4 linked regions of the Homo sapiens genome follow. The protein of the gene in region 3 purifies or fractionates together with the protein of the main gene of each other region. This does not show direct contact. Each region holds a gene or a part of one and is shown on either strand. Other genes may lie near its edges.

What was found.
Region 1: the proteins of TMEM70 (region 3) and ACSS1 purify together in Homo sapiens (affinity purification with mass spectrometry; 2 studies listed by BioGRID and IntAct, with this or other methods). This does not show direct contact.
Region 2: the proteins of TMEM70 (region 3) and CPS1 purify together in Homo sapiens (affinity purification with mass spectrometry; 2 studies listed by BioGRID and IntAct, with this or other methods). This does not show direct contact.
Region 4: the proteins of TMEM70 (region 3) and MCCC1 purify together in Homo sapiens (affinity purification with mass spectrometry; 2 studies listed by BioGRID and IntAct, with this or other methods). This does not show direct contact.

The regions. Positions count from the first base shown.
Region 1 is NC_000020.11:25,048,124-25,055,155, forward strand, and holds part of ACSS1 (acetyl-coenzyme A synthetase 2-like, mitochondrial isoform 1 precursor), read right to left. Parts: intron 59-7,032; coding exon 1-58. UniProt on the Homo sapiens protein: Catalyzes the synthesis of acetyl-CoA from short-chain fatty acids. Acetate is the preferred substrate. Can also utilize propionate with a much lower affinity. Provides acetyl-CoA that is utilized mainly for oxidation under ketogenic conditions.
Region 2 is NC_000002.12:210,601,571-210,608,602, reverse strand, and holds part of CPS1 (carbamoyl-phosphate synthase [ammonia], mitochondrial isoform b precursor), read right to left. Parts: intron 6,402-7,032; coding exon 6,273-6,401; intron 3,502-6,272; coding exon 3,357-3,501; intron 1,873-3,356; coding exon 1,662-1,872; intron 243-1,661; coding exon 44-242; intron 1-43. UniProt on the Homo sapiens protein: Involved in the urea cycle of ureotelic animals where the enzyme plays an important role in removing excess ammonia from the cell.
Region 3 is NC_000008.11:73,979,182-73,983,302, reverse strand, and holds the end of TMEM70 (transmembrane protein 70, mitochondrial), read right to left. Parts: intron 2,149-4,121; coding exon 1,682-2,148; 3' UTR 520-1,681; downstream 1-519. UniProt on the Homo sapiens protein: Scaffold protein that participates in the c-ring assembly of mitochondrial ATP synthase (F(1)F(0) ATP synthase or complex V) by facilitating the membrane insertion and oligomer formation of the subunit c/ATP5MC1 through its interaction.
Region 4 is NC_000003.12:183,096,466-183,104,388, forward strand, and holds the start of MCCC1 (methylcrotonoyl-CoA carboxylase subunit alpha, mitochondrial isoform 1 precursor), read right to left. Parts: upstream 3,032-7,923; 5' UTR 2,976-3,031; coding exon 2,887-2,975; intron 2,779-2,886; exon of another isoform or gene 2,023-2,778; intron 1-2,022.

The sequences.
Region 1 (7,032 bases), on a different chromosome or scaffold from region 3:
TCCCAGATCAAAGCAACGCTCTCGGGGGACTTCCGAACATGCTGGTCCAAGCAGTTGACTGTACAAAAAGAGGGTTTGCGGATGTTACACTTGGTGCTTTTTGAGTGAGAATTCGGCCAGGTTGAGGGGTTGGAGCGGGTCTAGTTTGCTGTGGCTCTCTCTTCTTCCACTGACAGAGACCCTGTCCTCATCAGTGATGATGTTTCTACCCCCTTGCAAGGAGAAGGGTGAACAAACATGATCTCAGAGGTACAAGGTGATGTCCTGCAAATATTTTGAAGTGGTTGCTTCACACCAGTGGACCCAACCCTGGCTGCATATTGGCATCTCCTGGGCCACCCCTAGAGACCCCATCCAATGGGTCCTGGGCCTTCAAAGCCTCAAAGCCCCCATGGTTGGTTCTGATGTGCAGCCAGGGCTGGGCACTGCAGCCTAAGCTGTTGGAAAGAACACTCAGTGCAAACAGGTTGTTCCTGTTTCAGGGCTTGGCTCCTGCAGTTCCCATGTGCCCAGTGCTGACCTGCCCCCAAGGTTAAAGGTGCAAGAAGGGACGAGGACCCAACTCCCCCACGTGTTCCACGAGCACCCAGTAAACCAGCCTTGTTCCAAGAAGTGGCTCGTGATGGGGAAATGTCCTGGTTTTGCAGAAGGCTCTGCTCCCTCCCTCTCCATTACCCAAGCTCCCACACATGACCCTCCGGCAGAAACAGCTCTGTGGCACACCGTGAGACTGAGGATTAGCAGCACGGGGCCCCTCCGCTGGCAGGCTGGTCACTACTCATTAGATTCCAAAGCTGAGCCCCTTCTGGCAACCCTCAAGCCAGCTCTCCTCACTCACTGGCTTATCGGAGGGTCCCCAGGTATGCAGGGACATGAGCCCCATGAATGGTTTTGGGGGCAGCAGCACCCACCCACCTGGTCTCTCAGGGTCACCCCTGTAGCCTGTTTGTAAATTACACCTCAAAAAATGTAACAAATGTAGACAGATTCCAGGAAAAAATTACTAATACTAGTAAGAGACACAGGAAAGTTCTTTGAACTACTATTAACAGAAAAATAAAAGAGAAGACATGCCCAAAAAATAGAAGAAAATAAAAACAAGAAGACAAACTAAGAAGGGGATCAGTGGCAGACCTGAATTTACACAACATCTCTGTGTGTGTTGGGGAGCTGGGGGTGCTAACCTCTGTTCACTGTGGTCATGCCAAGTGTAGCATTAACCCCACAATGTTTTGCTGGGTGTTGGGGAGTCTCTTAGGAGCAAAAAGAAGGAGCATACAACCCTGAGATGGTTTAACCCAACCAGTCCTGGGTGCCAATCCTGATCAAGGCCCCACACTGAACACTGAGGGAAATGCCAGGGCAGATTCGAAGCCCCTGCCATGGGTGCAGGAGACAGATGCAAACGTAAGAAACATGCAAAAGTGACCAAACACACAAGGCCGGTGGCGGCAGGCTCATGACACTTGTCCAAACAGGGCACTGGAGCTGAATTTACCCTGGGAAGGCAAACCCTGGGAAGTCAAGAGCAGCCTGGGGCTGAAACAATAATTACTGCAAGAGCCTCCACGGAGACAGCGCCCGCACCACCAGCATCTCCCATTATGGATGGGAGAACAGAGGCCCCGAGAAGTTAAGCTGCCTGGCCAAGGTCACACAGAGGCAGAGCTGGATTCAACGCAGGCAGATTGGCTCCACAGTCTGTCCCACCGCCCCACCCTCCAAAGTCCCCCGGTAACAGTCCAGTTCTTCACCAGGCGGTGAAGAACTGCTCTATGCAACAAGTGGGAGGGAAGCGAGCTTTGCCGGTAGTGGGGGAATTGGGGAGGAGGGATGAATCAGGCTTGGTCTTACAGACGGAAGACAGAACAGTTGAGAAGAATAGTGAGGCCAATTCAGGCAGGCGACAGGAACATGTAAACCCTGAAGGAGATGGAAAAACAACACAACTGCCAGGGAGAAAATTAATACACGGGTACAGCAGATATTAGCCAACGTGGTCCCTAGGCTGAGTCCAGCATACAGTTGTGCTAACCACCCTGACCAGGGTGTGCAGGCATGCGTGTGTGAGTCCAGTCCAATATTTAAAAATCGAGAGCTTTCACATGAAAGCCATGGACTTCTGGCTTCTGAACAATCAGCAGGAGACCATCCCTACACAGAGAGTCCTACACCCCGCTGCCTGCCTGTCACCTCCAGTGACTCTATGATGCTATGACAAGCCTGGGAATGTCTAGCTGAGGATCGACACTGTCTGCACCCACCATCCCCCCCGGGAGCTGGTCACAAATGCAAATCTTCAGCCCCACCCAGACCTGCTGAGTCCCAACCAGCCTCATAAGAAGCCCCAGGAGATGTGAACCCACTCTCATATCTGAAAAGCTCTGCCTGACATACTTGCTCCACTCCAAATTTGACCCTGGAGCCCCCCGGAAGAGTGGCCTGCCCAGGTGTAGATGAGCAAACGCCCTCTGCATGGCCTGGTGACCTGCCCAAGGCCCCAGCCAAGATGAAGCAGGAAGGGCTCGAACCACGCTGGACACTTCGCCTTGGCATTCATCTCATCGCCTCACCTGCTCCCACAGCAGCCAGGGCACCAGGACACTCTTCTCAGAAACAGTGACTGCCCAACTTCAAACAGGCCCTCACAGCCTCCCAGCCCAGCAGGACATCCTGCACCATTTTATACCAAGCAGGAAGGCAGAGGTGAGGAAGGTGGAGAGGGGCAGGCCAGCCCCAGGATGGACAGCACCCAGGTGCGGCTGGGTGGCCCGTGAGATAAGCCCTGTGTCCCTGTCTTTCCAGGGCTGACAGGTGGCCTGGGTCCAGCAGATCAGAACAGAGCCCCAAACACAGTGTCCCCCAGGTGCCTCGCCACATGCAGAGGTGCTCAAAAAGTGGCCACCAAGGCCCCAATGACCTGCCTCTCCCTGCTGACCGGGCCACATCTGGTGAGCTCCCCTGCCCTCAGGCCTTTGCTGTGGCTTCTCCCTGCCTGGGGCACTGTGCCCTCCTCACACCCACACTGCAGCTCTCAGCCCAAGGCGCTCACTCTCCCGAGCACCTCACTGTCCCAGACCCTGCGCATCCCCCAACTCTTCCAGATGCTCACTGCCTGCTGCGCTCCCTAGGGCGAGGGCTGAGTGTCCTGCTCAGGTCTGGGTTCAGGTAGCCTGGTCCAGAGCACAGAGCTGAGGAACAGACCACTTGCGTCCTCGAGCCAAAGGGTCATATTGAGGTGTAACTGGCACCAGGTGGTCCCCTCATGCCCAAGGGAGGGAGCAGACCTCTTCTTGTCTTTGTGGCTTCATCCCTTAAGTAGAAGACATTCTCTTTTTTGGCCCAAATCAGTGCTTCTCAACCTTGAGTGGCATCAGAAGTCCCCAGAGGACGTGTTAGCTGCAGCCAGTGTGCCCCGTCCCCGTTCTGGGCATCTGCATTTCTAACAAGATCCTAGTGATGCAGCCGCTGCTGGTCCTGGGACCCGACTCTGACGATGTGTGCACATGGACCTACATGCACATCCCCTTTCTATGCAGATGCAAGATTTCCAATGGTTTTCTTTTTCCTTTGGGACAGGGGTGATTACACATACTTGCCAGCCTCATGAGCCACTGGTTGGCAGCCTGGAGTCACCACTAAAAACTCAGGGTCTAAAGTCCAGCCCCTGTCCAGCCACTCACTAACCACAGACAATGCACATATCATTTAATCCAAGCCCATTTCCTAATCCTTGGAGTGGGTATAATGATCCTTGGTCTGGGTGGGACTGGAAGGACTAGGTGCCATTGGGTTGTTTCTGGCTGTGGGTCAGATGGAGTCAAGGTGTCCCCCAAGAAGGCAAACAGAACAACCCTCCCCCATCTTTGTTCTGGCCACCATGGCTGGTGCTCAGACCACACAGGCACCTGAAGAAAGCTCCATGTGGGGTTTGGGGGACAGTGGCCCTAACACCCATGTGCACATGGCTCTTCGCACATAGTTATGGTTCCTGCTAGTGCTTCAATTTCAGGATGAAAAGGTAGAAAGGAGGGGGAGGAAGGAGGTAAGAAGGTGAGGAAGGATGGAAAGGAGGAAGGAAGTGGGGAAGAGAGGGAGGAGGAAAAGAAAGTTTAAAAAAAAATCTGCCCAAAGAAATGGGCAGTGAGACAAGAAAATTCCATTTCTCAGCATTTCCAAGAAGAGTTGGGCAAGGACCCATGGCAATTTAAAGTGTAGCTGAAACTCCACCTCCTATTTCCGGCCTTTCCCAAGTTTCCCAGCACATGATGGATGACCTGTCCTTCGCCTCTCAGAGGCCCACACCATTTCACACTGCCCCATGCTCCCTGGTGGTCCCCATTACAGGGCACAATGCCATTCCCCAAGGGCAGGGACTGTGTCCCTAAGATTCCTTTATCATGTAGACTGGCGTTGGGAATTACATCACAATTCCCCTCCCACCTCAGTGTGGACTTACTCATTTACTGACTTATGGTTCATCTCCTCATTAGAATGTGGGCTCTGTGGTATTGAGCATTTTCTGGATTATTCATTGCTGTACATGAATTGGAGCCTTTATTTCCAAATCTGTGCAATGGGACCACCAACCACTTCATGTTGGTGCCATGAGGATGCGACAAGCCATGCGGAGCTGAGGGCCGGCCAGCCAGGGCGCTCCATCTCGCTCACAGATGCCCAGGGCCCCACCCAGGGCCTAACACAGCTGGACGCAGTCGGCCAATGCCCGTGGCTGGGGCAGGGGTTTGGTATTTTGTTTTAAAAAGGCATTATAAGAGTATTGGGATTTCCATTACAATCCTGACACACACGTACGAATTTTCAAGTACTCTTGTTGCTTATTTAAATACATCCCTCACACTCACACACCCTAACTGAAAGTGGAACCCAGCATACAGAAATTCAATTTGAATACGGAGTTACTATTCACAATGAGCTTTTTTTTTTTTTTTTTTTTTGAGACAGGGTCTCACTCCATTGCCCAGGCTAGAGTGCGCTGGCGTGATCTCAGCTCACTGCAACCTCCACCTCCTGGGCTCAAGGGATCCTCCCACCTCAGCCTTCCAAGTAACTGGGACTACAGGTATGCACCACCACGCTCGGCTAATTTTTTTTTTTTTTTTTTGAGATGGGGTTCTCACTACGTTGCCAGGCTGGTCTCAAACTCCTGGGCTCAAGCGATCTGCCCACCTCAGCCTCCCAAAGTACTGGGATTCCAGGCATGAGCCACGGCGCCTGGCCCACAATGGACTTTCTTTTAATAGCAATCTTCCCTGGCAGGCTTTGAGATATTACGTCAGTCACAAAAATTGTTTTGGACAATTTTCCCAAAGCATCTGTTATTTAAAGTAAGTCGTGCCCCTGACAGCTGGGGAGGACTTGGATTCCTCGGGAGGATCCTCCTCCTAAGATTAGGGGTTCCTTTTTCATGTAGAGTTCCCTGAAAAACCTTAGAAAAGTTACTTTAATCACTGGAATCACTAGGAGGAAAATGAAGCACAGGCGCACAGCGTCTTGCCGCTGTCAGTGTCCTGCCTTCTGAACGATTAGAGGCATGCCACAGAGAGGAAACTACAGCAAACACAGAGGAACTACAGCAAAAGGGCCTCTGTTCCTGCAATTAATCTCCAAAAAGCATCCAAGAAATTTCCCAGTGCTCAATGCTTGGTTACAAAGAGGATTTTTACACTCTTGCTTAAGAGTACACACACTGAAAAACATCACTTAAAATTGGGGGTTTTAAAAATAGAGCTTAGCTGTGTGTTTTGAAAGCAACACATGTCATTACCCTCTGGTTCTGCATTTACAACTTCCTGACATCTTGAGTTGATATGCCACAGGGCAAAAAGAGCTGCAGAGCCCTACAAAGGACAGAGCCAAATTTCACAGGTGGGAAAGAATCCCTTTTAGAACCTGGCTCTCCAAAGAACCTTCTGCAAGGCAGTTTTACACAATAGAAGCAAGTCACAGAAGGGCACAGACACTCTGTCTACCCTGCCCAGTGAGTCTCAGACACCATAACCTCAACTGGCTATTGGAGTTGTGGGATGGGCAGGATACTGTGGAGCTTTGAAAGCAACCTCAGCCACCTGCATGCTCTCCGAAGCCTATTCCCCACCTATCCCAGGCTGATCAGATGCAAGCCCATGTGGTCCAGTTCAGATGAAGCTCAGCTCTCTCAGCAGCACTGCCGAAGGCCAAGCACAAGGTCACAGCCTCCCCACATGCTTCATTAATAAATAACAAATAGTCAGTGACTGGGGATGTATAATGTGTTAAGAAAGTGCTGAGTGCCTTACAAGCATTTCCTCATTTCATTCTAACAGCCCTGGGATGGGTGTGCTGATAGATACTCCCATGGATAACAAAACAGGTGCAAACACTCAGGTCCCCTTCCCCAGGTCGGAAGATGCCTGATAACATCTGTGCTGGTCTCTTGGACCTCTGGTTGCAGGAAATTGCCTGGGCCCAGCCACCATGCTGTGACAAGCCCCAGGAGGTGCTTTGGGCCACAGTTCTGGCTGAAGCCAGCCTGCAAGTTGTCCCAAACAAGGCTCCAGACTTGGGAGTGAGAAACAGGCAGATGACTCCAACCTCAGACACTGAGGAGCAGGAGCAAGTGTTAAATAAAATGTATAGGAGGCCACTGGTCTGGACTGAGCTGCATGAGGCCCAATAGATCACACAAAAATGGAGTCACTCTTGCTAAAGTGCGGTGTCACCAAATGGAAACTAAGTTGTTTATCCGACCTTCTAAGAAACAAGGAGAGTGAAAGATAGCTAAATCTCCAAACAAGCTGGCATGATAAGGGAGCTCCTTCCACTTTCACCTTTACAACAAAAGTAGCTTTGAAATAACCAGTCCACTTTTTGTTCTCCATGTCTGCATCCTTCAGCCCCTTCTGTCTATAAAACCATCCTCCTCTGTTCAGCTCATCAAACATTCCTTCTGTTTTATGGAATGGGGTGTTTCCCAATTCTATAATCACGAATAAAGTGAAGTAAGGTCTTTAAACTAAATTTGTCCTAATT
Region 2 (7,032 bases), on a different chromosome or scaffold from region 3:
TAACTGAGAACAAGAAGAAAAGCGTAATAAACCAAGGACTCACCTCTCCTACACTTTTCATAGAGCTACCAATTCGGCTAGATGTTCCATGAAAACGGTCAAGATCCCAGCGGGGAATCTTGGTGACCATGTAATCCAGGCTAGGTTCAAAACAGGCTGATGTCTTCCCGGATACGACGTTCTTAATTTCTGGAAGTGGGATTCCTAGGGCAATCTTTGCAGCAATGAATGCCAATGGGTAGCTATAAAAAGAAGACAAATTTATTTTTTTTTCTTCGAGCAATTATTGAAAACAGACCAAAACATAAATTGGTCTTTCTTAAAATTTCTGGTATTATTCTACTTCAGGGTATAAGACACTTGATTCTCTGTTCTGCATCAATATTTAGTAGCCACTTGCGGAATAATAGGAGTCATGATACAAAGTATAGAGGCACAGGTCACAGGAGAATTTACTCTCTGTGCACTACATGCATTGCTACAACGCTCAACCTTCACCTCTTCAACCCAAAATCGATAGCTTTATTGATAAATAAAGTTTAACCTTTATTTGTATTTAACCTCCACTAAGATGAGAATCTGCAAAATATTTTTTGAGAAAATATATACATATCTGTACATATACATATCTGTACCTAAGAATACAGTGGAGTTAGCTAGTACAAGAGAGTACATAATGGTCAGAAAATGTAGGCATTTCAAGTTTGGGTCCTTGCTCTGTCTCCAAATTATCTTTGAACTTTGGGCTCCTTACAAAACTAACACTTTGAGAACTTGACTATCTTCATCCAGAATGTCAGTTTGGGTTATTCTGTTTGAGAAAATAATTCATAGAACTATAGAATTAAAAATGAGTTCTTTAGTACAACTTCCACCTAACAAATGAGGAAACTGATAAAGACAATGAGTGATGTGCTCAAAATCACACGGTCAACAGAAGAACCAAGTGAGAATGCAGAATTGTGACTCCTGTACAGGGCAACATGCCTTTCACCACTCCACGCAGTGCTGTGGAACTACGTAAAAAAAATATAAAGAAGTAAATATTGTGTTCATTTAAATGCCATAATTTAAGTGTAAGGTGCTAAATATATTATTAGAAACCAAAGGTTTTGATTACCTTTCCCTCCAATCATGCCTGCTAGTGGCTGTTACATAGACAGCAGATGTATTTGTTTGGTTGTAACAGTTACTTGTGAAAAAATTCCGCACTGTTCAGTCTTGTGGAGTTTTGATAAAATAAAAGTAATGTGTATTGCATGCTTGAGTCAAGTGAGCTATATTTTCTGTCAACTATTTGCTATAGGGCTATACACCTGAAGAAAACAGCTGAAGACTAAAATTAAGGATTAATCTGCACTTTTAACAACATCTGCAAAGTGCAATTAGGAAGCAGATTTTTCACAGCCTGCTTTAGCCACCTAGATTTTGATTCGTTTAGATTAGCCTGCAAACAAAGCCAGCTAGCAATATAATTTACCTCAATCTGGCAACAAGCTCATTAATAATCATGTCCTCAGGGTGCTATAAATGATTTGGAGCTAACATACAGAAAAAGGGAACATAGTTTGTAAATGCAGTACAGTCTTCCACTATCTGTCAATTTTTCATTTCTATCTGAAAAGAATCTGCAAACCCATGGTCAATTATTCTGGTCTTACCCAGTGGCTTTTGAGGCCAGAGCAGAGCTTCGGGACAGTCTGGCATTCACTTCAATGATGCAGTATTCCATTGAGGTAGGATGAAGGGCAAACTGAATGTTGCATTCACCCACAATGCCCAAGTGGCGAACAACATTGATTGAAGTACGTCTCAACATCTGAAACTCGGCATTGGAGAGTGTCTGGGCAGGAGCCACAACAACTGAGTCACCTATATATCCAAGAAGCACTCATTACTTGGTGGCATATTGAAATAACCAACTTCAGCGACTTAACCATCTACTTGCACGATGCAAGACATAGAACAGTCTGAGGGTTTGTTGGGATATATATGTGATATCAGGTATTCCCCCAATTCCTGTTTTGCCCATATTACTCTGATACAGTACTTTTAGAAACCTCTCTAACCTTTCCCAAGTTCATCTATCTAGTAAGTAGCTATCAAGGCTTCAATCGTCTACTTACTAGATTGACTTCAACTTCCCTGCTCTTCATCTCAAATTATTTCTGAAGTTCTTCCTTTCATTGAATATTATCACTCAGACTGGCTCATCAGCTGGCTTTCTGTATCTCATCCCTTTCCATCTTCACTTCCCTCATCATAGCCCCTTATATCTGCAATCTTAGTCTCCATCCCTTCTGCCTTCAAACACGCTCAGATCTTCACTGCCTCCGGAAGTCTTCTCCCAACATTGCCAGACAACCATACAAAGCTTCTCTCTCATTCTTTACATGAATGAGCTTCTTGAAAGTTTGCCAATTCTGCTTACCACTTGATACCATGTAATTCCTTTTAATAGAGCTCACAGAACTGACTTTGCAATGAAATTGTTCTCTTGGACATCCAAAAGAGCCAAATTAAATAATCAGTCTTGGTCTTGCATAGCATTTGATACTGCCAAAAACAAAGCTCTTTTATAAAATAGTTCTTGCATTGGCTTAGTTGGTACAGTACTACCTGATTTTCCTCTTAACTCTTTATTCTCCCCTTCTATCTTCAACAGTAATACTTCCTCTTTCCCCTGCCCTATAAATCTAAATGTTTCCCAGAGTTCAAAGTTCAACCCTATTCTCTCCTCTTTCTATACCTATGTCCTTGAATACTTTGTCTATGCCTACAACTTCAATTTCCCCTTTTATGCCAACAGTTTCCAGTGTCTTTGTATCAACTTATTTATTTCTATTTTATTTCTTAAATTCCATCTCCACATTCTCAACTCCCTTTTTTGACAGCTCTGCTCACACCCCAAATTTAGCACTTTTAAATCCTAAGTTATCATCTTTGCCCTCTTATCTAACTAGTGTACTTTTCTGAAAAACTTATTTCTATTATTGTGCCTATTTTCTCATTTACTGGGTGATTACCAGCTCAGTCTGCTTTAAACTGTCTCAACCTCCCTTCTTATTTCTCAACACTAAGTTTTATGGATCTTATTTCTACCATATTGCTTACCTTTGGCTCTTCCTCAATTAACTCAGTGTAATATCCGCCTTACTTCACAGGGTTTGTGTGAAGATCAAATTAAATGTGAGAACATTTTCAATACTGTAAAATACTATGCTTGTCCAAAATGTTATCACTAGTCTGTCAACTAGAAATAGTAATTTAAAGGCAACAACTTTATAAAGACTGCCTTGGCCATCAAAGACATGAACTGAAAGCATTACTATAGTTCTTGAAGATACTTTGCCTACCTGTGTGAACACCCATGGCATCAACATTTTCCATGTTACAGACAGTGACACAATTGTCATCAGCATCTCGAACCACTTCATATTCTATTTCTTTCCAACCTGTCACTGACTTCTCCACCAGAATTTGGTTGGTCATAGCAAAGGCCTAGAAATTGGTGACAAAAGATATCAAAGAGTAAGAAAAAGCACTGGCTTCAACAAGGATATTTGGCAAAATACCCTGGCATAAATCCTGGTCAGCACTGAACTCTCAAACCCCGTCTCCATTCTCCCCTGCACAGAAGGCACAATGTGTCAGAAAATCAGTGAGGTACTAGGAATAGCATCCTGCAGTGAATATGCTTGATTTACATTATTGAGGCTTGCCATTCAAAGTGCTGATATGACAGTAAATCAAACTAATTTAGGAAAAAGAGAAAATAATTGAGCAATCAGGCAGAGGGAAATGAAATTATTTCAGCAGCTAGGCTTCTGTGAAACCAGAAAATGTGATAAGTGTGAATAAATATGGAAAAATAAGTCTAAAGACTCTGGCTCTCTCTAAAATAGCTGAGGGTGCTTTGTACAGTGACACACACAATAAAAGTTAGTTGATGTTGATGAGGAGGAGAAAGGAGATGATGATGGTTGTAAACGGTTAGCCAAGATGGCATATAAAACTTGAGAATTAGAAGAATCATATGGGACTATTATTATGGTTAATCACTGCCTAAATGCTTAAATACTCTGAGTCATATATCATGTATGCCTGATTAGACAGATATGAATTAGCATAATTATAATTTCATATTTACGGCACACCCACAATGGGTAGAATACTGAACCCAAAATAGGAAAGTGGTAATCTTTGACCTTAGGACATGCAGTGGCTGATAATCCAAGGGAGAAATGTCTTATTGTCTTATAATATATTTGATTTGGATTGACAGTGAAAGGGAAAGCAGTTTGAATTTTTTCAAATTATTAATAGGCATTAAAATAATAATTTAATGTAAGTTTTTCTGTAATGTGCCTTAATAGGATTTTTTTAAACTTCAGTCATCACTACAGGCTCCAGCACGTGCAAATGAAAATGTGACACATTTGTCCCCACAGCTGCCCACGATGAGGTTCTCAAAGTGGTTAGAAAATTCAGTAGCCAATGTTAACAATTTAATAATGATTAATTCATCATTCCGGTTGCCTGCTAAAAGAAGAAATCTAGGAAACAAAGGGTATAAATTTGGAAAAGTATTTTGCATTCTAATGAAGTAAAATGGATATTTAGATACAGGGAAAATTTGAAATTATCTTCACCTGTTTCCTCAGCTTATTTTTATTTTTATTTTTTGAAGTCTTCGATTTTATGTAAAAAGTTAATTTAGGGACCTGGATAAGTTAATGCAGCTTTTAATGGTGCTAATTATAACCTCAAGAGAATAGGGGATTGTTTAGGACATAATGATATGACTAATTATTCTCAAGGGAAGAGCGAGGGTTTTTTTCAACAAGAAAAACCATTTAAGGGACTATTGATTATTTGAGTACAATATAAATAATTGAAAGCTATTTCATTCCAAAATTCTCTTTATTATAAACTTTCTTACATGAAAAGTTCAGTCTTCAGATTGGTTTCTTATAGAGTAAAAAAATTAATAGAGAATATGTATACACTGTCACAATTGGCAGTTATGAAGTTGTTAATATTGAAAATATTTGGAGCCTCTAACATGCTAGAGGAAATAAACTTTCTATCTTCAAAAACATGTTTTTGCTCTAAATATGTGATTCATATGTCCAGAATGGTAACAAGAAACATTTATGTGAGGTATGTTTCCCTTTTTTGTAATTTTCACAACTTTAGAAAAACGAAACCCAAGTTGTTTATATGTAAGTCTGCCATTGTAGTTATTTAAATATGCTGAATTGTACTTATCTGTTTTCAAAATTCTATGTCAACAATTCAAGGGTCTCATTTCACTTCAGTTCAAAAAGTAAGTAAAGATGAAGCAATAAGCTGTCCGTGAGCTATTTCCTAAATAATTCCCAAAATAGCCCTTACAGTAATTCTGTCAAATTCACTTCTATGACTGCCATGTAAGTTACACAGGTTTCTTGGCTGCACGTGTAATCATTCTTCAAAGACATTATTGAACTCCTGGTATTTCCAGGCACTGTTCTATTTTGTGGAAATAGAGTATAGACAAAAGTCTCTGTTTTCCTGGAGCATATTTTCTGCATTAGTCTCTAATTTAGTTTTTGTAGCATAGCTTACTTTTCTCAAGAGTTTTCCTCTAACATGCAAAGAAAGAAGTAGTTCCTAATATGTTAAAGTGATTTTGATAGAAAATAAATTATAAACCCTCAAATCTCTCGTGTTTTTATGAGTATATGGCAGTTGGTGGAGTTCAGTCATTTACTGTATTGAGTGGTTTATACCATGTATATTTTAGACACCTTAATTTTGAGTAAAGTCAAACTACTCAATGTGCTTTGTTTCACTTTCTGGATGTCACCCATGCCAGCCACATTATTTCTAAAAAATTAAAAATGAGACATTATGTCCTATTTTTCCTTAACCACTAAAACATATTTTAGCATTTTAAATATTTGAGAGTAGATTTTGAAACAAAGGAAGAAGGAGTTGAATTAAGTTCATCTCCTTGAAGTCAATAGATTGTACTATAAAAGTGGAATTTGAGGTAAAGTGACCACTGGTTTACCTTGAACCATGTGGTTTATCATTGCATCCTGGCATGAAGAGTTGCACTGCATGCTCTCGCAAAAGTGTCATCTTTTGGAATACGCTTTTGGAGAACATGATCATGATTTAATAAAGAAAATGTAATTTCTCATCTACATAACTTTCTCTAGTTGAAAAGGTCTATCAAGCCAGTTTTTTTGGTTGGTAAGAATATTGTCTACAAAAATACATACCTTTGTGCTGAGGTCCATCAAAGTCTCTCTGTTGGGACAGATGCCTGAGCCTAACCCACCCAGTGCATAGGCGGAACGGATCATCACTGGGTAGCCAATGGTGTCTGCTGCCTTCAGTGCATCCTCAATCTGTCAACAAGAACAAGGACTCAACATTTTAAAAGCTGAGCACACTGGCAGAACAGACCACACCAAGAGAGTCTGGCAATCAGGTAAACCAACTTATGTGGGGAGAGTGAATCTAGAAATGTTCTATTATTCCCTCATCTCATTCTGAAAAGCAAGTGTTGTTACTCAAATGTTAAGTAAAATTCTAGAAGGGAGGATATATATATATATATCTTCTAAGAAATACACTTTTGCGGTAAATTTTATCCTGTCCTATTGAAACAGAACCATGGTCAAAGCAGAAATAATCATCATTCATTTGAGAATGGCAGCCATATTGAATTATTGGATTTTTACGATTTTTACATGCAGCTTAAAAGTCTCTGTCTTAATGAAACCAGGTTCTCTGCTGCTGAAGCTAGCTTGATGTTACCACAATAAGCCATTAGGAACACTGTATATAAATGGATTTTTCATTTTCAAGTTCAGTCTGAGCATAGTCCCAGAAGCTTGGAATTCTTTTTTTTAACTTACAGAATACAACATATGGTGGCTATATTTTTCTGTCATGGAATATTATTACACTACCAATGGGAATGTAATTACACCTTTCCCATATGCCTGTTTCTTTTCCTGAGGAAGCAAGGACATA
Region 3 (4,121 bases):
GGACAGAGAAGCAAGCAGGCAAAAACCCACCTTGAGCAGAAGATGGCACAGAGGAATGGCGGTGGGAATTCTCAGTCTGGTGAGCTGGACAATCCAAGCAGAGGGCAGGCTCTACGTCTCAGAAAGACAGCTTTTCTGTCTTATCTCCTATGAATAAGTTTCGAGCAGCCTGGGAGTTGAATGATCTCTTTGAACAGATGTTCCTGCTGCTTCCCCATCAACCTCCCTCATACACATGTACGCCATAAAGTTTAAATTTACTATCATGGTGGCCATAGACAATGTTAGGTAGCTCCATAAAGACAGACGGGGTGTTTCATTCTTAACTGTGATCTTAGTAACTAGCACAGTACTGGGCACTTAGTAAATATCTACTGATCTAAATAGTGTGGTTTGAGGCCTCTTGTTCCTGGCTAAAAATCCTTGGCAAGAGTCAATCTCCACTTTACAATAGAGGTAAAAATCTTACAATGGATATTCTTGACAAAGCTAGCATAGAGACAGCAATTTTACACAAGGTATTTTTCACCTGTTTAATAACAGTGGTTTTCCTACACCCATAGGGTGCCACCAAGGGAGGAGTGCACAGTTGCAGAAACAAATTAAGATACTGAAGACAACACTACTTACCATTTCCCGTATAGCTAACCACCAGTTCAACTGTACATGTATGTTCTTATGGGCAATCATGCCAGGGGTTAGGCAAAAACCTGTGTTCTGAACCAAAGAAGACTTAAAACTGCTCCCATAATTTGTGAATTTCTTGAAATTTTGCGGTTTTTTGAAAATTTTTTAACAACTGGTAATCAATTTATGAAAACAGTTGACTTAAGCATTTGCAATGGTGACTTCCATCTCAACTCCTGGCTCAATACTGATGGAAGTAATCTGCTTAACTATCTGAGGACTGCGCAAGTCAATGAGTCGCTTGTGGATTCTCATCTGGAAACGATCCCATGCCTTAGAACCTTCACCGTAAGTTTTTCTTGTAGTGATTCTCAAAGTCTTGGTAGGCATTCAAACTGGTCCTTTCACTGATTCTTTTCCTTTGCTCCTCAGATCAAGTCAGCACACACCTTATCCAGGGATTTTACGTTGCAACTCGTTAGAGTGATATGAATTCGGTGAATTGCCACCTCTGACTCCACGGGTGTTTTTCTGGTATGTTTAAAAGCCATGGCTGCTGCAAGGCTTCCTAGCCAGCTTCCTGACAGACTTGGTCCTCAGGCAACAGCAAAGAGCAGTGAGTCAGGAGCAGGAGCAGGTGGACCACAGCTCCGCACCACCTATGACTGTGTCTTCCTCAAAGAGAAAATGTCTTTTAATGTCGGAAAATATTTATACACTTAGAAAAATCCATACACAAAGAATAAAGCAACTCTCCCATTTGCTACTGACATCAGATCCCCAGTTTAGAGTCAACCACAGTAACACAGAACTCTTATACTAGCATGAACATATTTATTCACATACCTTTCTAAAACACGAATGGTAGATACTACATTTTGGTTTTCAAACATAGCTTGTTTTATTATAAACAAACATCATTCTCTGGAAATTAAAAGCTTTGATAATTTCAAATTATTTTTAACAATCAGTCACTAACGGAATGCAAAAGGCAATTTTATTATTATACATTAAAACGTAAATCACATTTGAGCACGAACACTAACAAATAGGCTCATTTGTCATCTTTATGCCGTTTCTCTTCACTGGTTTCTTCCATATACAAAATAAATTCTTCTTTGTCATAACCCATTAGATGGATATAGTCTTCACGGTTTGGAAAGAGCACTGGATTAACTAACAGTGATTTTGTTTTAGCATAAAATGTGGTAAATACATGTTTAGCATCTGGAATCTTCACATCATTCTGGTGAAACACTGTACTCGTTTCTGCAAGCATAGCATTGTAGGTAATGGCTTTATAAGTGTCTGTTGTGGCCTCATGGTACAATCGAATGACATAGCCTTTTGTAATAAAGTGAAGCAGCACTGGGGTGATCACCGTAAAGCTTCCCATGATGCCATAGAATATGATTTGAATAGGCAGAGGCACACTTTCAGAAATAGCATTATTTTGTGTAAAAATGTATGGCAGAAATGTAAGGCCAATCAGACTCGTAGAATAAGAGAAACATTTCACACCTAAATGGGAAAAAAAGAGAGAGGATCAATACTTTTAAATTTTATAAAAGAATCAATCTATCCCACTAATTCTTCCATTTTTCTTCTTACTGTATCAGCTCAAGACAACAAAATCAAACCATAAATACAGTGCTTATTATATTCTAAGCTCTGTTTTAAGGACTTTACATATTTTGACTTCAATGTCCCTGCTACTGACCATTAGAATGCACTGCCTCTCCAGGCAGGAAATCTGCTTTAGGGTTTAAGTGGCCCTACCTCAGTTCCACAATAAAGTAGTTAATATTACTTAAAGATCCTTACTAATATTGTACTACAAAAGTTGATTCAGATAGCAGATTATCAAACAAAACTCTCTATTAACAAGCACTCCAGTATATCTAACATAAAATATTCAAACATGGGAAATTCTATCAGGCTAAGTGCCCAGGATTAAAACAGCAAATCACCAGAGAAATAAAACCAGTGGTTAAAAAACATATCGGACGGCCAGGCGCATTGGCTCATGCCTGTAATCCCAGCACTTTGGGAGGCTGAGGCAGGTGGGTCATTTGAGGTTAGGAGTTCGAGACCAGCCTGGCCAACATGGTGAAACTCCCATCTCTACTAACAATACAAAAATTAGCTGGGCATGGTGGCAAGTGCTTGTAATCCCAGCTATTCAGGAGGCTGAGGCAGGAAAATCCTTGAACCCAGGAGGTAGAGGCTGCAGTGAGCCAAGACTGCACACTGCACTCCAGCTTGGGAGACAAAGCGAGACTCCATCTCAAAAAAAAAAAACAGAAACATATGGGAAAGGTATTCAATTTCTTTAGTAAGGAAAGACATTCAAGTTAAAACAATGAGATAAGCAGCCTGGCCAGCATGGCGAAATCCTGTCTCTACTAAAAATACAAAAATTAGCCAGGCTTGGTGGCATGCACCTATAATCCCAGCTACTGGGGGTGCTGAGGCAGGAGAATTGCTTGAACCTGGGAGGTGGAGGTTGCAGTGAGCCCAGATTGTGCCACTGCACTCCAGCCTGGGCAACAAGAGCAAAACTCCGTCTCAATAAATAAATAATAAAAAATACAAAAAAAACACTGAGATACCATTTTTACCTATTACCTTAGAAAGATTAAAAATAAATGACTTCTAGCAGAGTGCAGTGGCTCATGCCTGTAATCTCAGCACTTTGGAAGGTGTAGGCAGAAGGACTGCTTGAGACCAGTTTGAGACCAGCCTAGGCACCATAGGAAGACCTGTCTCTACAAAAAAAATTTTTTTTAATTAGCCAAGGCTGGTCTGATGGTAATGAGTTATCAGAACTTAACACTGGCATCACTAAAGTTGGTATACAATGTCCCCACTGCTAAATTTGACTAGCTTAAAAAAAAAAAAATCAGCCAGGTGTAGTGGCACATGTCTGTAGTCCTAGCTATTTGGGAGGCTGAGGTGGGAGGATCACTCGAGCCCACAAGTTTGAAGTTGCAGTGAACTATGATCACACCACTGCACTCCAGCCTAGATGACAGAGACCCTGTCTCTAAAAAATAAAAATTATTTTTAAAAAATGGCTTCTAAACTGTATACTTCAAAATGATTAAAGTGAAAAATTTTATGTTTATCTAACCACAATAAAAAATGACTTAAAATGTAAATTTACCTTACCTTTAATTTATAATTTTAATACGATCCTAATAAAAAATACCATCTGTTTGGAAAATAAAGTTGAGATCCTAAACAAGTTGATTATAAAGTTTATTTGGAAAAACAAAAGCAGCAAAAAATAAAAAAATAAAGCAATGAGGGGAAGTTACCCCTTCGAAATATTAAAACATAATAGAGGCCGGGCGTGGTGGCTCACGCCTGTAATCCCAATACTTTGGGAGGCCGAGGTGGGTGGGTTACTTGAAGTGAGGAGTTCAAGACCAGCCTGACCAACATGGTGAAACCCTGTCTCTACTAAAAATACAAAAATTGGCCAAGTGTGG
Region 4 (7,923 bases), on a different chromosome or scaffold from region 3:
TATTCACAAAGCACAAGATAAAAGCACAGCGTGTGCATTAGAAACTATGTAACTAGGCAGTAGTATATACATATTATGTATATGACTATGTAGTTGAGCAGGACTAGTATTTCACTGGAGCGGAGATGCAGTAGACATCTACACATCTATATGCGTCTATACACTCATTGCCCTACAATGCACACTCAGATGCTGCCATCCATGAGGAGCTGCTGGGAAGACCCACAGCTTTGGCAGGAGAGTTCCGTGAGCTAGCTTCCTCACGAGGCTGCTGCTTTCCCACACCTTTCCATTTCAGCTGATGTTACCTTCTTGATCCTGAAGGAGGGGGATCATCTTTCCTGATCTTTATGAGGTATTTTCTAGCTCATAGCATCGTCTTCCCTTTACATTCTTCAGATAGGCTTCTGATAAGTTTCAAGGCCTATTCTGGGCAGATGTATCTATTAAATGGTTGCTTGTTGGTAAAGCTAGCTTAAGACTGATTCGGTTTCAAGGCTACTGTTGACCTAAAGCTTTCTTTTGCAATCTTCTAGTGAAGACAGAAGAAGGGAGAGAGGGAAAAAGAGGGAGAAAGAGACAGAGATCCCACTTAACTGTAATCCACTATCCCAACAATGTTCTGATCATCTATTCCATTTTTCACAATTATCTAAGCTGCAACTTAAAAGCAATGGCTTAAACAAGATTAAGAAGCTGCTTCCCCGGAGCTTGCAGTGAGCCGAGATTGCGCCACTGCAGTCCGCAGTCCGGCCTGGGCGACAGAGCGAGACTCCGTCTCAAAAAAAAAAAAAGAAGCTGCTTCCCTGATTCAAGGTAGCTCTATACCAGCTTATTGTCATGTCTATAATTCTGCCACCAGAGATTATTTTCTGTGAGCTACTAAAGATTCATAACATAAAAATAATGTAAACTATCTGTGCTGTTAAGATTTTTTTGTTTTTGTTTTATTTGAGATGGGATGTCACCCAGGATGGAGTACAGTGGTGTGATCATGGCTCACTACGGCCTGGAACCCCTGGACTCAGGCCGTCCTCGCCCTCCTCATCCTCCCAAGTAGCTGTGACTACAAGTGTGTGCCACTACGCCTGGCTAATTTTTTAATGTTTTGTAGAGATGAAGCCTCACTGTGTTGCCCAGGCTGGTCTTGAACTCTTGAACTCAAGCAATCCTCCCACCTTGGATCCCACAGTGCTGAGAAACTGCTGAAAATACAGGCATGAACCAAGTCTCCTGGCAAAGAGTTTTACTTCTATAAGCCATTAACAACTCTAACACTCTCCAGAGTGACATACTTGAGGATAGTTCTTTAGACAATAGCTAAGCTTTGAAAGGGAAGACAGGAAATGGGTCTATGGTACTATCCTGAAGAGCCCTGGAGGCCTAAGAAAAGAAAAACCAGAAGAACAAGAAGAACATTAACATTACTTACACCAACTTTTTTTTTTATTTTTTTATTTTTTATTTGAGACGGAGTCTTACTCTGTCGCCCAGGCTGGAGTGCAGTGGCGTGATCTTAGCTCACTGCAAGCTCCGCCTCCTGGGTTCACACCATTCTCCTGCCTCAGCCTCCCGAGTAGCTGGGACTAACAGGCGGGACTATAGGCGCGTGTCACCACGCCCGGCTAAATTTTTTGTATTTTTTAGTACAGACGGGGTTTCACCGTGTTATCCAGGTTGGTCTCGATCTCCTGACCTCGTGATCTGCCCGCCTCGGCGTCCCAAAGTGCTGCGATTACAGGCGTGAGCTACCGCGCCCCGCCAACTTCCAACAACTTTCTTATGTTTCTCTGGGGCACTCCTACAATTAAGTAACTAAAAAGGGCATCTACAATATTTCTGGAAAATAAAAGCAAGCAAACGTTCATATAAATGGTTGAGTTTGCATTTATAGACTGATCTTATGTACCAGATTGTGCTTAAACCTCATTCCATGAATTAATTCATTTAGTTTTCACAACCCAAGGTACTCGTATCATCTCCAAGGTGAGGAAATTAAAGAAGAAATATTAAGTAACTTACCCAAAGTCACACACCTAGTGAGTAGCTAACTAAGACCTCAGCCTTGACTGCAGAGTCTGTGCCCTTGAACACTAAACTGTCAATCTTTCCAGAATGATGAAGGATGATAACGATGAAGCAAAAGAAGACAAAGAAGCAAAGCTATCTACAAGCCTGAGGGTTTTTTCACTGCCAGAGTTATTGCCACCAAAGCTTAGAGCTCAAAATTTGAAACAGAGCTGGAGTCAGGTGAGCTAGACTGAGTCATCTGATAGCGTTGTTCAAACTTGGGTACAAGAGTTTTTGACAAAATAATTTCCCAGCTCTGTGGAAGGTACATTTGCTCTTCTTGACAACTTCACTCTTCTAACAATGAGAAGGAACTCCAGGAGTCTTTCTCTGAACTGGACACCTGATGGGGCACAGCTGAACTGAAAAATGGCTTTGAGGGCATCCCGGCCCCATTTCTTACTAGCTGTGTTTCGTTGAGGAAGTCGTTGATCCCTTTGGGCTTCCCCGGAACCGGATTATAACAACGCTCCCACCTAAGGGGTGCTGCGAAAGCCCGATGTAAACGGCTACGAGCTGCAGCGACGGCGAGGGGAGCCTGGAGGATGGCGGGCCCAGTCCTCAGAAATGGAAAAACAGAAGCCAAAGGCGCGCTGAAGCGTGGATGTGCGGAAGCGGGGAGAAAGGGAAGGGCTGGTGGGGATGTCTTCCTCCCGACGCCGTGACTGCCGGCAGAACCCCTCCGAAAGTGCCTGGGGTTTTCCTACCGTCCTCCCCACACCGACCCTGGGTTCCGCCGCACCTCCCACCGCTCACGCGGGTCCGTGCACCCCTCGCTCCCGCCTCTGCCCACTGAGCCATGGCCCCTCCACCCACCTCGGCGGCAGGAGCAGGCTCGGGAGACGATGCCACCGGTTCCTCTCCGCCGCCACCAGCAGCACCGACACCGCAGAGGCCGCCGCCATGTCCCTGGAGCCCGGCCACTCCGTGACTCCCCAGTACAGAGGCAGCTGCGTCCCACACGCCAAACCCGTTCCTCCACTACGAAGCCTCGTGACCCCCGCCGGCCACCGTCGGAGCCTGAGCCTACCTTTGGGCTGATCCAAGAATGTGAGGGCGTCTCCACGAACACCAATCAAAGACCAGAGCCCGGCTTCAGTAGCGACGATTGGGCAGTCTGGCCACGTGCTCGTGGGGGTGTGGCCTTTGTTTCTGCGTCCCCTGGGGCCTGCTCTGACTAAGGCAAGGGTTTTCTCCATCCTCCCCCTCTTGGTTGCCTGTCACTGTTTCTTCCTGCATCCCGTGGGGTTTCTTCGCTCTCGTCACCTTCTGGGAGAAGAACCCTGGGGAAGAAGCCAAATGCGGATGGACAGCAGGATACACAATTCTCTAGTGCTCTCAGGGATGAAAAAATAAATAAGCTAAAGTGAAAATCTTTAAACCACCTGAGCTTAAAACAGGTATTCTAACTGACTATTGGGAAAAAGAGGAAGTCAAAGAGCAAACTGAGGAACATCTAGAGAATAAAGAAACTGTAAACACTACATGTAGATGCTTCATGAGGAAAGCAGGAGGGAGAAATTAGGGAAGATAAAGGAATAAATAAATGAATTCAGGAAACCAGTGTCAAAGGACTAATAAACCCACAGGTTCACAAAAAATAAAATAGTTATCTAATCAGAAATAGAGAAAAATGCACATTTGACATGATTTAAAAAACAAGCAGGGGAAAATCACAGACACAGGAAACAAATTATAGATTTGTAAGATGCTAATTTTGCTTAACTTCAAGTGAACTTAAAACTCTGGATGAAATGGATGATGTTACAAGAAAATACAATTTATCAAAATAGATCCTGGAAGAGACAAAATTTAAGCAAACCGTTACCACAGAAAAAATAGAGAAGTTTATCAAAGAACTATCCTTGCTACCACCATGGCCCACTTTCACCTTCACCTTCACCCCTAAAAGTTACAAAAGCCCTCCATGTCTTGCAAGAAAATTCCACACAAATGAGTAATTGACTCAAATGCTATTAATTCTGTCCCAGAGCACAAAAAAGATGGAAGTCTTCCAAACTCTTTTTAAAAAGTAAACATAACTTTGATACCAAAATCAACAAAGATATCACGCACACACACACGACAGACCAATTTCACATGTAAGTATCAGTGGAAAAATTCTAAATAAAATATTAACTACGCTGGGTGCTGTGGCTCATGTCTTGTAACCCCCCATTGAGATGTGACAGCGTGCTGGCAGTCCTCAGAACCCTCGCTTGCTCTCGGCACCTCCCCTGCCTGGGCTCCCACTTTGGTGGCATTTGAGGAGCCCTTCAGTCCCCCACTGCACTGTGGGAGCCCCTTTCTGGGCTGGCCAAGGCCGGAGCCCACTCCCTCAGCTTGCAGGGAGGTGTGGAGGGAGAGACACGAGCGGGAACTGGGGCTGTGTGCGGCACTTGCGGGCCAGCTGGAGTTCCGGGTGGGCGTGGGCTTGGTGGGCCCCGCACTCGGAACAGCCAGCCAGCCCTGCTGACCCCGGGCAATGGGGGACTTAGCACCCGGGCCAGTGGCTGCGGAGGGTGTACTGAGTCCCCCAGCAGTGCTGGCCCACCGGCGCTGCGCTCGATTTCTCGCCGGGCCTTGGCTGCCTTCCCACGGGGCAGGGCTCGGGACCTGCAGCCCGCCATGCCTGAACCTCCCACCCACTCCATGGGCTCCTGTGCGGCCCAAGCCTCCCCGATGAGCGCCACCCCCTGCTCCACGGCGCCCAGTCCCATCGACCACCCAAGAGCTGAGGAATGCGAGCGCACGGCGGCGCAGGACTGGCAGGCAGCTCCACCTGCAGCCCCGGTGCGGGATCCACTAGGTGAAGCCAGCTGGGCTCCTGAGTCTGGTGGGGACGTGGAGAGTCTTTATATCTAGCTCAGGGATTGTAAATACACCAGTCAGCACCCTGTGTTTAGCTCAAGGTTTGTGAATGCACCAATCGACACTCTGTATCTAGCTGCTCTGGTGGGGCCTTGGAGAACCTGTGTGTCGAAACTCTGTATCTAACTAATCTGATGGGGACGTGGAGAACCTTTGTATCTAGCTCAGGGATTGTAAACGCACCAATCAGCACCCTGACAAAACAGGCCACTGGGCTCTACCAATCAGCAGGATGTGGGTGGGGCCAGATAAGAGAATAAAAGCAGGCTGCCCAAACCAGCATTGGCAACCTGCTCGGGTCCCATTCCACGCTGTGGAAGCTTTGTTCTTTCGCTCTTTGCAATAAATCTTGCTACTGCTCACTCTTTGGGTCCACGCTGCTTTTATGAGCTGTAACACTTATCACGAAGATCTGCAGCTTCACTCCTGAGCCCAGCGAGACCACGAGCCCACCGGGAGGAACGAACAACTCCGGACACGCTGCCTTAAGAGCTGTAACACTCACCGCGAAGGTCTGCAGCTTCACTCCTGAGCCAGTGAGACCACGAACCCACCAGAAGGAAGAAACTCCGAACACATCTGAACATCAGAAGGGACAGACTCCAGACGCGCCGCCTTAAGAGCTGTAACACTCACCGCGAGGGTGTGCAGCTTCATTCTTGAAGTCAGTGAGACCAAGAACCCACCAATTTCGGACACGCCATCACTTTGGGAGGCTGAGGTGGGCCTCCCAAACTGCTTAAGCCTAGGAGTTTGAGACCAGCCTGGGCAATATAGTGAGACCCGCATCTGCACAAACATTTTTTTAAAAAAACTGGGCGTAATGATGCACACTTGTAGTCCCAGCTACTCGGGAGACTGAGGCAGGATCACTTGAGCCCAGGAGTTTGAAGCTGCAATGAGCTCTTATCATGCCACTATACTCCAGCCTGGGTAACAGAGTGAGAGAATGTCTCCAAAAAAGAAGCAAAAAAAATAACTGAAGTATCCTGTAGCATGTGAAAAGAATAACACACTGTAAATAAGCAAGGTTTATTCCAGAAGTATAAGGATGATTCACTATTAAGAAATCAATTAATAAAATGAATATTAAGAGTTTAAAAGAGAAAAACTTATATTCACAGAGGCTTAATAGGTCATTGACAAAATCTGACCTTCATTCTAGATTTTAAAACTCAGTAATTCAAGAAGTGATTGGGACCAGTGATTAGCCCTCTGGAAAAAAAAGCTGGATCCCTGCTTACTTCTTACACCTAACACCAAAATATTCCAAGTAGATGAAAGATTAAATATAAAAGATGAAAGCATAAAAGTTCTAGAAGACATTATGGGAGGTCTTAGAGCAGAGAAAGTTTTTTTTTTTTTTTTTTTTTTTTTTTTTTTTTTTTTTTTTTTTTTGAGACGAAGTCTCTCTCTGTTGCCCAGGCTAGAGTGCAATGGCATGATCTCGGCTCACTGCAACCTCCACCTCCCAAGTTCAAATGATTCTCATGGCTCAGCCTCCCGAATAGCTAGGATTACAGGCATCCACTACTGCACCTAGCTCATTTTTTGTATTTTTAGTAGAGACGAGGTTTTGTGTCTGGAATTGGTGGGTTCTTGGTCTCACTGACTTCAAGAATGAAACCGCAGATCCTCGCGGTGAGTGTTACAGCTCTTAAGGTGGCGCGTCTGGAGTTTGTTCCTTCTGATGTTTGGATGTGTTCGGAGTTTTTTCCTTCTGGTGGGTTCCTGGTCTCACTAGCTCAGGCAGGAGTGAAGCTGCAGACCTTTGCAGTGTTACAGCTCATAAAGGCAATGTGGACCCAAAGAGTGAGCAGCCGCAGGATTTATTGCAAAGAGCGAAAGAACAAAGCTTCCACAGTGTGGAAGCAGACCCGAGCGGGTTGGCACTACTCGCTCTGGGCAGCCTGCTTTTATTCTCTTATCTGGCCCCACCCACATCCTGCTGATTGGTAGAGCCCAGTGGTCTGTTTTGACAGGGCACTGATTGGTGCGTTTACAATCCCTGAGCTAGACACAAAGGTTCTCCACGTCCCCAGCCTGGAGACGTGGAGATTAGCCTAGATTAGCTAGATACGGAGTATCCACACAAAGGTTCTCCAAGCCCCCACCAGAGCAGCTAGATACAGAGTGTCAATTGGTGCATTCACAAACCCTGAGCTAGACACAGGGTGCTGATTGGTGTGTTTACAAACCTTGGTGTATTTACAATCCCTGAGCTAGACGTAAAGGTTCTCCACGTCCCCACCAGACTCAGGAGTCCAGGTGGCTTCACCCAGTGGGTCCGGCACTGGGGCTGCAGGTGGAGCTGCCTGCCAGTCCCGCGCCGTGCGCCCGCACTCCTCAGCCCTTGGGTGGTCGATGGGACTGGGCGCTGTGGAGCAGGGGGCGGCGCTCATCGGGAAGGCTCGGGCCGCACAAGAGCCCACGGAGCGGGGGGAGGCTCAGGCATGGCGGGCTGCAGGTCCCGAGCCCTGCCCCGCGGGGAGGCAGCCAAGGCCCGGCGAGAAATCCAGCGCAGCGCCGGTGGGCCGGCACTGCTGGGGGACCCAGTACACCCTCCGCAGCCGCTGGCCCGGGTGCTAAGCCCCTCATTGCCCCGGGCCGGCAGGGCCGGCCGGCTACTCCGAGTGCGAGGCCCACCAAGCCTACGCCCACCCGGAACTCCAGCTGGCCCGCAAGCGCCGCGCGCAGCCCCGGTTCCCGCTCGCACCTCTCCCTCCACACCTCCCTGCAAGCTGAGGGAGCCAGCTCCGGCCTTGGCCAGCCTAGAAAGGGGCTCCCACAGTGCAGCGGTGGGCTGAAGGGCTCCTCAAGTGCCGCCAAACTGGGAGCCCAGGCAGAAGAGGCGCCGAGAGCGAGCGAGGGCTGTGAGGACTGCCAGCACGCTGTCACCTCTCAGTTTCACCATGTTGGCCAAGCTGTCTCGAACTCCTGACCTAAACTGATCTACCCGCCTTGGCCTCCGAAAGTGCTGGG